2 separate regions of the Homo sapiens genome follow, and region 2 is linked to region 1. The links come from fine-mapping of genetic effects on gene expression. Tissue or cell type: whole blood. Region 1 holds a variant in brackets; the other region holds the start of a gene. All regions are shown on one strand. Distances are from middle to middle.

What was found. PIP is the estimated chance that this variant, and not a neighbour inherited with it, causes the effect.
Region 2: it holds the start of TCN1, and the variant in region 1 is the best candidate, but not a certain one, in a credible set for the expression of TCN1 in whole blood (TOPMed, PIP 0.55).

What each region holds. Positions count from the first base shown.
Region 1 is chr11:60,069,073-60,077,185 of GRCh38, reverse strand. It overlaps MS4A3 (membrane spanning 4-domains A3), which reads right to left. Exons shown (of 7, transcript NM_006138.5): 6 at 7,511-7,612; 7 at 6,071-6,982. The coding sequence ends at 6,953. Among named protein-coding and RNA genes, the nearest start is that of MS4A2, 16 kb to the left of the region's middle. The variant C/T (reference allele first, on the strand shown) is at 3,714.
Region 2 is chr11:59,862,476-59,870,588 of GRCh38, reverse strand. TCN1 (transcobalamin 1) reads left to right here and starts at 4,102. Exons shown (of 9, transcript NM_001062.4): 1 at 4,102-4,197; 2 at 6,503-6,682; 3 at 7,867-8,007. The coding sequence starts at 4,119.

The DNA of each region.
Region 1 (8,113 bases):
CTTCCCTCCCGTCCCCTGCTCCCCAGTCTCTGATAATCATCGTTCTACTCTCTGCTTTTATTAGTTCAAATTTTTTGGGTTTCACAAATAAATGAGCTCATACAGTATTTGTTTTTCTGTGCCTAGCTTATTTCACTTAGAATAATGACTTCCAGTTCCATTCGTGTTATCACAAATGGAAGGATTTCCTTCCTTTTTATCACTAAAAAATATATTCCATTATATATGTATTCCACATTTTCTTTATCCATTTATCTGTTCATGGATAGTTAGGATGTTTCCATATCTTGGCCATTGTAAATATTGCTGCAATGAACGTGGGAGTACAGATATCTCTTCAGCACACTGATTTCAATTCCTTTGGATATATACCAGAAGTGGGATTGCTGGACCTATTTTTAACTTTTTGAGAAACCCCCACACAGTTTTCCCTATGGCTGTACCAATTTATGTTCCTACCAACAGTGCACAAGGGTTCGCTTTTCTCTATACCCTGGCCAACACTTGCTATCTTTGGTCTTTTTGATAATAGCTCTTCTAACAGCTGTGAGGTGATAGCTCATTATGGTTTTGATTTGTATTTCTCTAATAATTAGTAATGTTGAGCATGTTTTATGTAGCTGTTGGCCACATGTATGTCTTCTTTAGAAAAATGTCTATTCAGGTCATTTGCCCATTTTTAAAAATAAGGTTATGTGGTTTTTTTCTTCTGAATTGTAGGAGTTCCTTACATATATTGCATATTTACCTCTTATCAGATAAATGGCTTGCAAATGTTTTCTCCCATTCTATATATTGACTTTTCATTTTGTTAGTTTCCTTTGCTATGCAGAAACTTTTTAGTTTGATGTGACTCCAGTTATTTATTTTTGCTTTTGTCACCTGTGCTTTTGGTGTCTTATCAAAAAAATTATTGCCAAGACCAATGTCAAGGAGATTTCCCTATGTTTTCTTTTAGAATTTTCATCATCTCAGATCTTACACTGAAGTCTCTAATTCATTTTGAGTTAATTTGTGTATATGGTATAAGGGTCCAATATCACTTTGTTCCATGTAAATATCTAGCTTTCCTAACACCATTATTTTTGTCTCAAATTTCCCAATTCTAAAACTATCTTGATTTTGTATACTTGTTTGATTTTCACTGGCACAGCAGTTATCCAAGCTCATATTATTGTCCAACTTTACACTGTTAATACCATTCTTACTGGGTTTCTTTTTTACATATTCACTTATGTACCACTGGGTTTCTTTTTTACATATTCACTTATGTACCAGCCCTCTCAAAGCTGTTATTCATAATGCAGCCATAGTGACCTTTCAAATTGGCATTATTAGTAATATCACCATCCTCTGAAATCCATTCCATAACACCCATTGCTTTATGACTGGATCTCTGCCTTCACTCCTTCTCACCCTACTGCCTCCATATGAATAGATATATAGATATAGTATTTTCCAGAATATCATATGAAAAGACTATATCTATATATCTATTAATATGGAAAATAGTTTGGTTGTTACCAGAGTTTGGGGTGGGGAGAGAAGTTGATTTTCAAGAGATTACAGAAGGGAACTCTTAGGATGATGAAACTGCTTTGTATGGTACTATGGATACATAACTCTATGTTTCGTTAAAACTGATAAAATGATGTTTTGCAAATAATGAACTTTACTGTAGGCTAGTTTAAAATAAAAATTCACCAAGATACCTATGGAATGCAGGATGAAATTTAAACTGTGAAAAATAAATTAAACAACATTAGAAATGCATGCCAACCTCACCGAAAGAGGTAGAGGTTAAAAGGAGCTGGCCTAAGTACCTATAAAAAACAACTACTCTGACTGCATACCTTAAAGCTAAGGATAAAAAGAACTGTACACAAACAGTGTACTCTAGGTGGTAAATTTATTTCTCACAAAAATACTGGTTAGCAATTCTGAAATGAATTTACATGTATACTAATGTTAAACAGGTAAGGAAATAAATTGTGGAAATTGTTGCCAGATTTATTATATTCAGAAAACAGGTTATAAATAAGCAAGGTTGAGAGGTTGCTAGAATGGACCCTGTGTGGCCATATTTGAGTGGAATTTATCAGTAGGAATTCATGATGGAGAGAGAGAGATGGATAGATACATACATATGATAATAAATATAGACATGTGCATGCATGGGTCAGTGTACATGCATATATTTCTTAGCTTTGTCTCCTGAGGGGGGCTAAAAGCAGTGACATACAGTAGCAATGAGCACATCTTGCCTCCAGGTCAGGTTTTCTAAATATAGTTCTCTAAGTAAAGAAACCAGGGCTCCCTGAAGAAATGAAAATTCTAGGTCTGTAGCAGGTGAAATAACATGAAGAATCCTGTAGTTCCAGAAAATATGGAAGTGCTAAAAAGGGGAGAGTGGGGTGCAGCATGTCAAAACTACACAGGAGCCAACTCAGCTCCCAATGGCCAAAGCTGGAAAACTTTGAGAAACAAAACAAATATTGCTCATAACCAAAAGAATAATATAAATATTCATGAGTACATAACAATATAAATACTTTAATAAACAAATGAAAGAAGATACAAATCTTCCTTACTGAAACATTTAAATGATAAATAAAGGAGAAATGAGGGAAACAAAATCACCTTTTGAACAACACAATGGTATTTGCTGCAGGCAAAATCTACACATGAATCCTAAAACTTGTGGTTTTTCCCCATCTCTGTGGTGTAAATCCTCCCATCAGAGCTAACTTCAGGCTACCCAAACTATGTTGACCTGTGCTCCCTGAAAATTTAAAATTGACTTCCACAAACCAATATAAGCCAGTCTCAGGACATTCCTGTGTAAATTTCTTTCTTTTTTTTTTTTTTAGATGGAGTCTCACTCTGTTGCCCAGGCTGGAGTGCAGTGGCGCAATCTCAGTTCACTGCAACCTCTGCCTCCCAGGTTCAAGCGATTCTCCTGCCTCAGCCTCCTGAGTAGCTGGGATTACAGGCACATGCCACCACACATGACCAATTTGTGTATTTTTAGTAGAGACGGGATTTCACCATGTTGGCCAAGCTGGTCTCAAACTCCTGATCTCAAGTGATCCACCCATCTTGGCCTCCCAAAGTGCTGGGATCACAGGTGTGAGCCACCGTGCCTGGAACCTGCATACATTTTCAATTGCTTCTTAAAACTCATAGTGCTGCCCTCTCCCTCTCCCTCTCCCGCTCCTGCTCCCGCTGCCGCTCCCCACGGTCTCTCTCTCCCTCTCTTTCCACGGTCTCCCTCTGATGCCGAGCCAAAGCTGGACTGTACTGCTGCCATCTCGGCTCACTGCAACCTCCCTGCCTGATTCTCCTGCCTCAGCCTGCCGAGTGCCTGCGATTGCAGGCACGCGCCGCCATGCCTGACTGGTTTTCATATTTTTTTTGGTGGAGACGCGGTTTCGCTGTGTTGGCCGGGCTGGTCTCCAGCTCCTAACTGCGAGTGATCCGCCAGCCTCGGCCTCCTGGGGTGCCAGGATTGCAGACGGAGTCTAGTTCACTCAGTGCTCAATGTTGCCCAGGCTGGAGTGCAGTGGCGTGATCTCAGCTCGCTACAACCTCCACCTCCCAGCCGCCTGCCTTGGCCTCCCAAAGTGCCAAGATTGCAGCCTCTGCCCGGCTGCCACCCCGTCTGGGATGTAAGGAGCCCCTCTGCCCCGCGGCCCAGTCTGGGAAGTGAGGAG[C/T]GCCTCTTCCCAGCCGACATCCTGTCTAGGAAGTGAGGAGTGTCTCTGCCCGGCCGCCCATCGTCTGAGATGTGGGGAGCGCCTCTGCCCCGCCGCCCCGTCTGGGACGTGAGGAGCGCCTCTGCCCGGCTGCGACCCCGTCTGGGAGGTGAGGAGCGTCTCTGCCCGGCCGCCCCATCTGAGAAGTGAGGAGCCCCTCCGCCTGGCAGCCGCCCCATCTGGGAAGTGAGGAGCGTCTCTGCCTGGCAGCCACCCTGTCCGGGAGGGAGGTGGGGGCAGCCCCCGCCCGGCCAGCCGCCCCATCCAGGAGGGAGGTGGGGGGTCAGCCCCCACCAGGCCAGCCGCCCCGTCTGGGAGGGAGGTGGGGGGCGCCTCTGCCCGGCCGCCCCTTCTGGGAAGTGAGGAGCCCCTCTGCCCGGCCACCAACCTGTCTGGGAGGTGTACCCAACAGCGCATTGAGAACGGGCCATGATGACGATGGCAGTTTTGTGGAATAGAAAAGGGGGAAAGGTGGGGAAAAGATAGAGAAATCAGATTGTTGCTGTGTCTGTGTAGAAAGAAGTAGACATGGGAGACTTCATTTTGTTCTGTACTAAGAAAAATTTTTCTGCCTTGGGATGCTGTTGATCTATGACCTTACCCCCAACCCTGTGCTCTCTGAAACATGTGCTGTGTCCACTCAGGGTTCAATGGATTAAGGGCGGTGCAAGATGTGCTTTGTTAAACAGATGCTTGAAGGCAGCATGCTCGTTAAGAGTCATCACCACTCCCTAATCTCAAGTACCCAGGGACACAAACACCTCGGAAGGCCGCAGGGTCCTCTGCCTAGGAAAACCAGAGACCTTTGTTCACTTGTTTATCTGCTGACCTTCCCTCCACTATTGTCCTATGACCCTGCCAAATCCCCCTCTGTGAGAAACACCCAAGAATGATCAATAAAAAAATAAATAAATAAAAAATAAAAAATAAAAAAAATAAAAAAAAACTCACAGTGCTGTCATTTTATAATCTCTTGTGATGTACACCTCTCTCCAAACTTTTATTTTTCCATCTGCCCATTATACACTGAAGTTAGACCCACTAAAGTCTCTAGTTTATTCTTTGAATATTCAAAATTTTTTCTAACTTAAAGGCTTTTAATGTATCCTCTTTTCTTCCATTTGCCTTCCATCATGTTAACGCTCAGTTATCTTTAAGAACTCAGTTGAGAAGAAAAGTGTTCTAAAAAATTATCACTGACATGTCTTCTAATCTGGGTTAGAAGCTCGTCCTACGTGCTTCTCAAGATTCCTATACTCTTCCTATGAGAGCCCTTGTGTGTTTCTAGGGGTCTGTATCTCCCACTACAAGCAACTTAAGAGCAGAGATTTTGCATCATTCTCTATTATATGCCAAGCTCTTAGCACAATACGTGACACACTGTAGGCACTCCCTAAATGATTGTTGAATTAGAACAGGAATTAAAAGAAATTAAAGAATGTGTAAGCAAAAGCTCGGTTGTATGTAAGAGAAACCCAATTCCCCCTGAAGAAGAGAAAGAGCTGGAGTCCTTTAAAATTAACTGCCTGTTTTTCTGCGGCTAGTGAGCCTTATCTCTCCCTTTCCCAGGCATTGTGAAGACCCTATTTCTCTAGCTGTGCAGGTGCAAGGTCACTAGGCAGATAAACTCAAGTCGTAAAACATGTTTTTCCTTGAAAAAATAAGAAATAATGTAATACATGTCTTAATTGAATAACTGTCTTTGTTTCTCACTTCTGTAATATGCTTCCCCCTGCACAGATCGTCCCCCGCTGCACAAAATGCTTAAAAGGTAACCGGACTCTTTGTTTGGGGCTCAGTCCTTTGGATGTTAATCCGACTGGGTCGGTGCACCTAAATAATTAAATAATTCCTCCTCAACCCCTCAGTCTCTCTGGTTCCTTAATTATCCCGCTGCAGAATGGATTAAAAAATAAAGAAATAATTATTATATAAGTAGGATACAAGTGTTAGAAAAGAACCTTTGCACATACGATATACACGTAACTAAGAATAAATTATTGGTATAAATTTATGGACACAATAAGTGCTTATATTTCTTATTCATAAATTTTATTTTTCTTGGATATTTATGAATAAGAAATATAAGTGCTTTAGCAGATTTATAAACGAGGAACTGAGGGAAGTTTTCACGCCACATTGCCACCTCGAAAAGATGGCTATTGGAGTTGTTGGAGGTTATACGAGGAGCCACAATGGAAGTGTAAGTAAGTTTTCCACTGTATCTCTCCAGCACATCTGACCACAATCCCACCTTAGCTTTCACCAGCAACAGCAAGACCAACAACAACAGCAACATCATTGTCAAGTACCTGTGGTGCTGTTTCACATTTTCTTTTTATTTTCATTTAACCCTCAGAGCAACCGACAAAGTAGTTGTTATTATTACACCTATTTTACAGATGAGGAAAAATAGATCAGAGAGATTAGATAATTTGCCCATGTTCATACAGGTAATAAGTGACAGTTTCAGAATTTGAACCCAGATGTGTCAGATTCTAAAGGCCTTATTCTTTAGTTCTCTACTTTACAGTTTCCCATTGTCCTTTGAAGAACACATTTGGGCTTGCTCTCAGACTCGCCAACATAAATCATCATTTACATATCAGGGCATGTGTGAGTTCCAGCAGTTCACTGAAATAAAATCCCTGAGCCTTAACCCTCCCATCTCAAATACAGTGAAAATTTATTTTAATGATAATGATGGTAATTTTTTATTTGACACTTTTTATAATGCTGATGTTAAAGTCAAGAAGCATTTCTCTGTAATGGAAAAAATGTCTCATTTTTCTTCCTACTGGGCGGTCAGAAGTTGGATTTTAGAAAAAATATATTGAATAGGGATTATACCGCCTTCCTTCCTTAAACCTCATAAAGCAATGGAGTAGGTGGATAAGAAGAAATAGAACCAATTTCTGGAAACAACTTTGGAGTAATGATCATAGAAGTTACAGATATCCAAGAATGCCTAAAGAAATATATCTGTCCTTCCATACCCACGACACACAAATAGGATTTATAGTTAGGAGAGAAAGGATAGAGTCAGTCAAACGTCCAAGGTTCTTGTGATTGGTGCCATGATAGAAGGATTGAGCTTTACGAGCAGGCTTATGTTCTCCTGAGTTTGTGGGTGAAGCTCTGAGTCACTGGAGATTTAAGGTCAAATATTCATGCTCTCAGAATTAAGGAGGTATTCTTGATTACACAGAATTGGGAGGTGAGGAAATTTCCTAGAAAATAAAACAACATTAATGTCCAAGAACAGGATCATTATCTCCTTCTCCTCCCATCCCTTCCTGTTATCATCATAATCATCAACAATAAAATCCATTCATTGATGTTTACTGTGCCAAATGCCATAAAGATTATATACACAGTACTCACAACAAACATTAGAAGAGAATGAAAATATTATTTTCATTTTACAGTTAATATATCTAAAATTTAGAAAGAATTATTAATTTTTCCTAGGTCATACAATTAGAAAGTTACAAGTTATAAGAAAATAATAAAACTTAATTACAGCTGTATAAGAAAGTATGCTCTTATATATCAAGTACAGTATTTCCTCTTGCATGTTCACATCCAAATTCTTTTCTACCCTTCATTCCATCTCTAACATTCATACAATCTCTAATTCCAGGAACTCCACAAATCATTACCACATAAAGGTTTATTTCTAAGCATCAGAAACAACTTCAAACCCTACAGGGAGGCTTTGAGATCATGTGAATGATTAATCATTTGAAAAATCTCACCTCTCTTGAATTACAGCAGTTTGCATTGCACCACATGGCTATGGTAGAGATGGTTACGCATAATTCCAGCAAGGTGAGAATCAGCAGTAGAGACACCATGCCCTAGGGGATATGATGCCTTATATCAAACCCAGTGGCAACATCCAGAGGTAAAAAAAAAAATGTCAGCAGGAAACCAGACTACAACATCTCCCTCCCGTAAAGTGGAACAAAGTGAACCATAAATTAAAGACAGAGACACATATAACACTGTAGAAGAGATAGTATCTCAATCTAAAAGCATGAAAACATTTTCTCTAATGAGAAAGATGTGTCACATTTCTATGTCAACGCATGTGAAGTAGCTACAGGGGGAAGAAGCTGTAGAAACAAAATTCTGACATTATCACTAACATCTTCCAATCTGAATAGTAGTAAACTAAGGAGAGGAGTAGGCAGTTTAGAAAAATGAACAAAAATGGCCCTTCCACAATTTCATTAGCACTTCATAGGGGTTTAGGCATTTACATTATCCCTAGAAACTAAAACACTGAGCTAATATAAACAAAAAATAAAATTGTTGGGCTAATGATTCTACTATTATTACTGAGGCACCTAGAAGCA
Region 2 (8,113 bases), 210 kb after region 1:
AGAAAAACAATGGAAAAGATCAACAAAACTAAAAGTTGGTTTTCGGAAAAGATAAAAAAAAATCGACAAACCTTTAGCTAGACTAACCAAGAAAAAAGAGAGAAAACTCAAATAAGTAAAATTATAAATGAAAGAAGTGAAGACATTACAACTGCTATCACAGAAATACAAAGAATCATAAGAGACTACTATGAACAATTATATGCCAGCAAATGGGATAACCTAGAAGAAATGCATAAATTCCTAGAAACACACAATGTGCCAACAATGAATCATGAAGACATAGAAAATCTGAACAGACCAAAAATATAAATAAGGGGACTGAATCAGCAATCAAAAACCTCCCTACAAAGAAAAGCCTAGGACCAGATGTTTCACTGGTGAATTCAACCAAATACCTAAAGAAGAATTAATGGCAATTCCTCACAAACTGTCCCAAAATATTGTAGAAAGAATATTTCCAAACTCATTTTACAAGATGAGTATTACCCTAATACCAAAGCCAGATAAGGACACTACCAAAAAAAAAAAAAAAATCACAGGCCAATACCCATAATAAACATAGATGCAAAAATCCTCAACAAAATACTAGCAAACCAAATTCAACAGCACATTAAAAAAAAAGCAAAAAAAAAAAAATCAATCAAAAAAATTTAGCATCCTTTCATGATAAAAAAAAACTCTCAACAAATTGGGTATAGAAGAATTCTACTACTGAGCCATTAAAAGGAATGAAATAATGTTAATAATAAGTGAGAAAATATTTTTTTTGGTTTTCTACTCCTGTGTTGCTTAGAATAATTGCCTCCAGCTCCATCCAAGTTGCTGTGGAATATTTGAGAAAATATTTGCGAACCTATATCTGAAAATAGATTAATATCCAAAATATGTAAGAACCATGCAATTCAATAGCAAAATGAAAACAAAAACAAAACAAATAACCTGATTTTAAAATGGGCTAAGGACCTCAACATTTTCCAAAGAAGACATAAAAATGGCAAACAGGCATGAGAAAACATGCACAATATCACTAATCATCAGAGAAATTCAAATCAGAATAATCACATCACCTTATACCTGTTAGGGTGACTATTATCAAAAAGACAAAAGATAACAAAGTATGGATGAGGATGTAGAGAAAAGAGAATCCTTTGTGTTTGCAGAATGTAAATTTGCACAACCATTATGGAAGACAGTGTGGTGGTTCTTCAAAAAATTATAAATGGAACTGCAATATGATCCAACAATCTTAATTCTGGGTACATATCCAAAGGAAGCAAAAGCAGTGTTTCAAAGAAATATATGTACTCCCGAATGGGCACGGTGGCTCACGCCTGTAATCGCAGCACTTTGGGAGGCTGAGGTGGGTGGATCACCTGAGGTCAGGAGTTTAAGACCAGCCTGATCAACATGTTGAAACCCTGTCTCTACTAAAAAAAAATAGAAAAGTTAGCCGGTGTGGTGGCAGATACCTGTAATCCCAGCTACTCTGGAGGCTGAGGCAGGAAAATCACTTGGACCCGGGAGGTGGAGTTTCCAGTGAGCTGAGATTGCACCATTGCACTCCAGCTTGGGCGACAAGAGAGAAACTCTGTCTCAAAAACAAACAAACAAACAAACAAACAAACAAAAATATATATTATATAAAATATGTACTCCCATGTTCATTGCAGCATTATTCACAATATCAAAGACATAGAAACAACCTACATATCTGTTGATGGATGAAGGGATAAAAATTGTGATTTATATACACACACACATATATGTGTGTGTGTGTATATATATATTTATATTTATATAATAGAATAGTATTCAGCCATAAAAAAGAAGGAAATAGTGCCCTTTGAGACAGCATGGATGAACCTGAAGAATATCATGCTAAATGAAATAAGTCACAGACAAATACTATGATCTCATTTATATGTAGATTCTAAAAATTATCAAATACATGGAAACAGAGAGTAGAATGGTGGTTTCCACATAAGTTTTATATAAATATGTGAGAGAGAGAAAGAGATTTATTCCAAGGAGTTGATTCATGCCCTTATGGAGGCTAAGAAGTCCCACAGTCTACTGTCTGCATGCAGTAAAAGTCAGTGGAGTGATTCAGGCCAAACTGAAAGCCCAAGAACCAGGGGAGCCGATGGTGTAAATCTCAGTTTGAGGGCTGGAGAAGATAAGATGTCCTAGCTCAAACAGGCTGGCAGGAAGCAAAAAAAGGGTGAATTCCCCCTTCCTTCACCATTTTATTCTATTCAGGGTCTCAATAGATTGATTGATGCACACCTACATTGGAGACGGCATTCTACTTTCCAGAGTCCACCAATTAAAATGCTAATCCTATCTGGAAACACCCTCACAGATACATCGAGAAATAGTGTTTAATCTGGGCACTCAGGTGCCAGTCAAGTTGACACAGAAAATTAACCATCACAGAGGTACAATGCAAATAGTGGCTCATTAAGTCATGACATCCTTAGCTAGGCTGACAGTATTCTCTAATAGTTCTCAGAAGAACTGTGATAGGCAACACTTCTCACATGTAGCAACTGCCCTGGCAGGGCAGAAATTCACATTTGATGTATAGCTCTCTGGTTTTCCTCCTTGGTTAGGAAACTCTCATGGAATCTATCTTAGGAGAAAAATCATAGTTTGGAAACCACTATGCCAAAGATCCCCTCATGTGCTGGGTTCTCCAATACTGCCTGCTTCAATTTCAGACTTACAACTTTTACTTCCGTTTTTAAATTTTTTTATTTCAATTTTTGTAGGTACATAGTAGGTGTATATATTTATGGGGCTCATGAAATGTTTTGATACAGGCATGCAATGCGTAATAATCACATCATAGAGAAGGGGGTATTCATCCTGTCAAGCATTTATCCTTTACGTTACAAACAATCCAGTTATACTATTAGTTATTTAAAATGTACAATTAAATTATTATTGACTATAGTCACCCTGTTATGCTACCAATAGTAGGTCTTATTCATTCTTTCCAATATTTTGTACCCATTAACCCTCCGCATCTCCTTCCCACCACTAGCCTTCCCAGCCCCCAGTAACCATCTTTTCATTCTCTATCTCTATGAATTCAATTGTTTTGATTTTTAGATCCCACAAATAAGTGAGAACATGCAATGTATGTCTTTCTGTGCCTGGCTTATTTCACTTAACATAATTATCTCCAGTTCCATCCATTTTGTCACAACTGACAGGATTTCATTCTTTTATATGGCTGAATAGTACTCCATTGTGTATATGTACATTTGCTGTGTTCATTTATCTGTTGATAGACACTTAGCTTGCTTCCAAATCTTGGTTATTGTAAACAGTGCTGCAACAAACATGGGAGTGCAGATATCTCTTCAATATACTGGTCTTCTTTCTTTTGGGTATATAGCCAGCAGTGGGATTGCTGGATCATATGGTAGCTCTATGTTTAGTTTTTTGAGGAAGCTCCAAACTGTTCTCCATAGTGATTGTACTAATTTACATTCCCACCAACAGTGTACAAGGCTTCCCTTTTCTCTACATCCGTGCCAGCATTTGTTATTGCCTGTGTTTTGAATAAAGCCATTTTTAGCTGAGATGAGAGGATATCTCATTGTAGCTTTGATTTCCATTTATCTGATGATCAATGATGTTAAGCACCTTTTCAAGCACTTTTTCATATGCCTGCTTCCCATTTGGATGTCTTCTTTTACTTCCATTTTTATATGTTGTATGTGTTTGCATGATCAAATCTACTTTATCAGGAAACATAAAACATAAAGTGAAACGGAAAAAAAAGGAAAGATTATAGGAAACAGTCATTTGCCTAATATATCTTCACTGCACGGAAGGCAAATAATAGATATGAAACCCGAAGGTTTAGGACAGGAGACAAAGGAAAGTTATTGCCTTATTCTCCCTAACCACATCCTTCAAGTCTTCTTCCTTATTTATTACATCACATGGACAAATACACTTGACCACACCTCCTGACATTGCTCAATATTTGCTTGAGTGAAAAGAGGCTGAGGCAACCTGAAGGAGGAGCTCTCATTACCTTCTGCCCATCACTTAATAAATAGCCAGCCAATTCATCAACATTCTGGTACACTGTTGGAGAGATGAGACAGTCACACCAGCTGCCCCTAGTGGGGCTCTTACTGTTTTCTTTTATTCCAAGCCAACTATGCGAGATTTGTGGTGAGTAAACTTTGAGCTAAAATTACTCTAGAGTGATAGTCTACTGAAAACTGTTGACAAGAGACTCTATGTAGAGTTACCTGAGAAAAGATCCCATTCCAGTTTCGTATGTGGTTGGACTCCATGAATGATGAAAAGGGTGGCAGGAGATGGTGAGGAAAGTCTCACAATGCATGTTGTTGTAAGAGGAATTATAGATTGTGTATTCACTTGCCTAACTGCTCTTTCTATGCTCAGATCCTCTCTAGCACAGCATCCCTACCAAGTAACTCCCTATTCATGTGACTTTTCAATGACAGAAAATTTATGCTCCCAGAAACTTTTCTAGATCATGGAAAGTTATCTTTTGGTCTTGATATGCAATCTTTTTTCCCTGAAATTCAATGCATGATTTTTGGGTTAACCCCTTGTAACTACATAGAAAAAAATAATAATCTCTTTCAAATAGTGATGACTGCTGTCTTGTCATGAGTGAGTTTAGATGTTCCAAGTTGCATGTCCACCTTCCTTCAACTCTTTCCCAGGACACATGGGATAAAGTTCCATCATCTCTTGCATGGGTGTTGACCCCAGAGATTGTGTGGTTCTGTAAAAGAACTTTAAAGTAAGAGAAGGGAAAACTAAATTCAGGTTTAGTTTGATCCCTTAGTTATTGAATGACCCAACATTTCTGAATTTCTTTAGCTTCATTCATAAATAAAGGATAATGAGGGGAGACTATTGAAGCAAATTATCTCATGAAGTCTGGTGCAGTTCTCAAGTGCATGAATTCTCTTTTGTGAGACTTTACTCTGAAATTGAGCTTCAAACCAGTCCAAAGATTACTAGGTGGTACTATCTGTGCTCTCTAACCAGTAAGAAGAGAACACCACAGAAGACAGGCTTGTATACATACAGGCTAAAGCATAGACTCTTCTGACTCTGATTTTTCTTCTTGGCTTGACATTTCCCCTGTTGGATCCTAAGAATAGGGAATGGCTATGTAGGTTTTAGCTTTCAATTCATTTTAAATAATAATGATAATAATTAAATTTATCTTTGAGACTCAAGGAAGCTGATTTGAGTTGTTGATCAGGAACTAAAAAGTCTGTTTCAGGGCCAGAAAATCTGCTGAGCTGGATGGTTCCACAAAATCTCAGAGAACTGACTCACAATTGTTCCATTGTGTCTGCAACAAACCATGACCTTTCTACAATCACTCTATTCAGATCTTCTTGACTCATTCTTTTAAAGTAAAGAAAACTGGGCAAGAGAAATTACATTTCCTTGATTCTCAAGTATAGTGATAAAAACTCCAGTTGAGCTGGAAATAATAGTATGTGCAGCATTTTACAGTTTATTCGGTGGTTTCTTGTCCAATATCTGTAAGGTAAGTGTTAACAGCCACAATTTTTAAATGAGAAAACTAAGAGTAAAACAAGTTACATAAGTTATTATCCACAGTCATAAGTTAAGGAGCACAAAATGTGGCCAAAATCTGAATCCAAACCTCATGTTCTTCTCACTCTCCCACTAATCCATTAGATAATCTGGAGATATGTAGGATTTGGGGCTACTCCTCAAGATTATGGAAAAATACATTGACAAAGTGTCCTGTGTTTAAATAAATAGTAAATCTTTTTATTCTCCTCTATTTCCTTGGGAGCTATGGATTTTCCTACTTCCACAGTATAATGTGACTTCCCTCCATCTCTGGAATTGGGGCATATTGTAGGCTAAAACTGGAGAGTTTTTTACAGGCTGCATAATGCTAAATAATGATCTCGATGCCCAGCCAGCTGGGTAATCAGACAATGAAGTTTTGGGGTCAATCACCAGTATAACACAGAATTATTACCTGCATTTTCTCAACATTAACCCAGTTGATTTAGAAGATGGAGAAGGAAAGAACTGAATCCAGGAAGTAGAAAGTCCTGCTTACTGAGAGTCAGAAGACATGTAGTCTAGTTTCAGCTCAGCCTCCAATTATGGAAGTTTCTTTAAGGACAATCTATCTAAGCTTCATATACAAAATTAGGGAATGATGCTAGATTTCCCAGGCAGGAGTCTGCCAGTACACAATGATAAGTCTGCACCAGTTGTTAAAATATTAAAACATTTTCATGTTGGTTGTTAAAGGAGTAATGTCTGGCATGGGGGTGGGTTCAAGACCCACCTTTGTATTATTCCACCAACACAGTCTGCAGCCACTGGATTGGTCTAGGTCTGTGCCATATCTGTTACTAAATATTTTTATATAACCCCTGCTGCAAGTCTTACTATTTTCTGAGTATGTGTTTCTTATTTCCTTCCTTCTCTGCCACAGAGGTAAGTGAAGAAAACTACATCCGCCTAAAACCTCTGTTGAATACAATGATCCAGTCAAACTATAACAGGGGAACCAGCGCTGTCAATGTTGTGTTGTCCCTCAAACTTGTTGGAATCCAGATCCAAACCCTGATGCAAAAGATGATCCAACAAATCAAATACAATGTGAAAAGCAGATGTAAGTTGCTGTATATTCTGGAAGATTTAGAAAAAAATCTACCTATTTAAAGATTATCTGCAACTAATCCTAAAAAATTATGCATCCAAAGTATCCCTGCTACATCCCTTCTAATGGTACCAAACTTGAGGTAACAGAAACATGCCCAAAATACAATCCCATGCCATTCACCCTAGAGCTAGGTCTTGCTTCTTTTGGTCTTAAAAACCACTTTTCTTCAAGAAGCCACAAACAAAAGCTATGGATTTTTATCCATTAATGCTGTTATATAAGCTAGCTTAGTTCACAACCACATGGGAATACAGATCATAACTAAGAAAGCTGGTGATGGAAAGGCAACCATGGAACAACCCAGATTTGAACTAGGTATGGGTGGGCCTTGAACCAGTCATGTTAATACTGAGCCTCAGTTTTCTAATTAGTATAAGGGGAAAAGAAGCCACTCTTACCTACCTCATAATATTATTATAAGAATTATGAGAATCCTGAGAGTTTGGATACTCTAAAAGGCAGAACATTAAAAATCAAGAATTACTATCCTAGCAAGCTGGTACCACAAAGAAAAAAAAACCCAAGATCTTGTTGTTTATCTATTTTTCCTCTTTTTCACTTTCATAAGGATTGTATGATTCCAAAACGATTCTGTGATTTTTATGGAAAAGACAAAGATTTAGTTTGCATTTATACAGTACTGCTCTAAAAGGCTCTGCTTTGAGGATAAAGAAGAGAGGAATCAAATATTCATACAGGAATGCATCACATAATGATGAATATATATGACGGTGGTCCCACAAGATTTTAATAGTGTATTTTTATTGTACCTTTTCTGTGCTTGGATATGTTTAGATACACAAATACTATTGGGCTACAATTGCCTATAGTATTCAGGACAGTAACATGCTATACTGGTTTTTAGCCTGAGAGCAACAAGCTGTACCCTATAGCCTAGGTGTGTAGTCAACTATACCATCTAGGTTGTGTAAGTACACTCTGTGATGTTTGCACAATGACAAAATCGCTTAACAACCAGTTTCTCAGAATTTATCCCTATCATTAAGCGACACAAGACTGTATAGAGCGCAACAGAAGAAAAAAGTGATAGGCAATATAAGTCTCAAGGAAATCAGGAGGCCCAAAAAATCACAAGCCTGTACCTTATTAAGCTTGAATACTTTTCTTTTCAGTGTCAGATGTAAGCTCGGGAGAGCTTGCCTTGATTATACTGGCTTTGGGAGTATGTCGTAACGCTGAGGAAAACTTAATATATGATTACCACCTGATCGACAAGCTAGAAAATAAATTCCAAGCAGAAATTGAAAATATGGGTAAGAATTAAATATTTAGAGACCCTAGACTACCTTGTCTTCTCCTCCACTGATTCAAAACTATATGAAGTTTCCCTCCACTCTTTCCTTCTCTTCATCCCGTTCA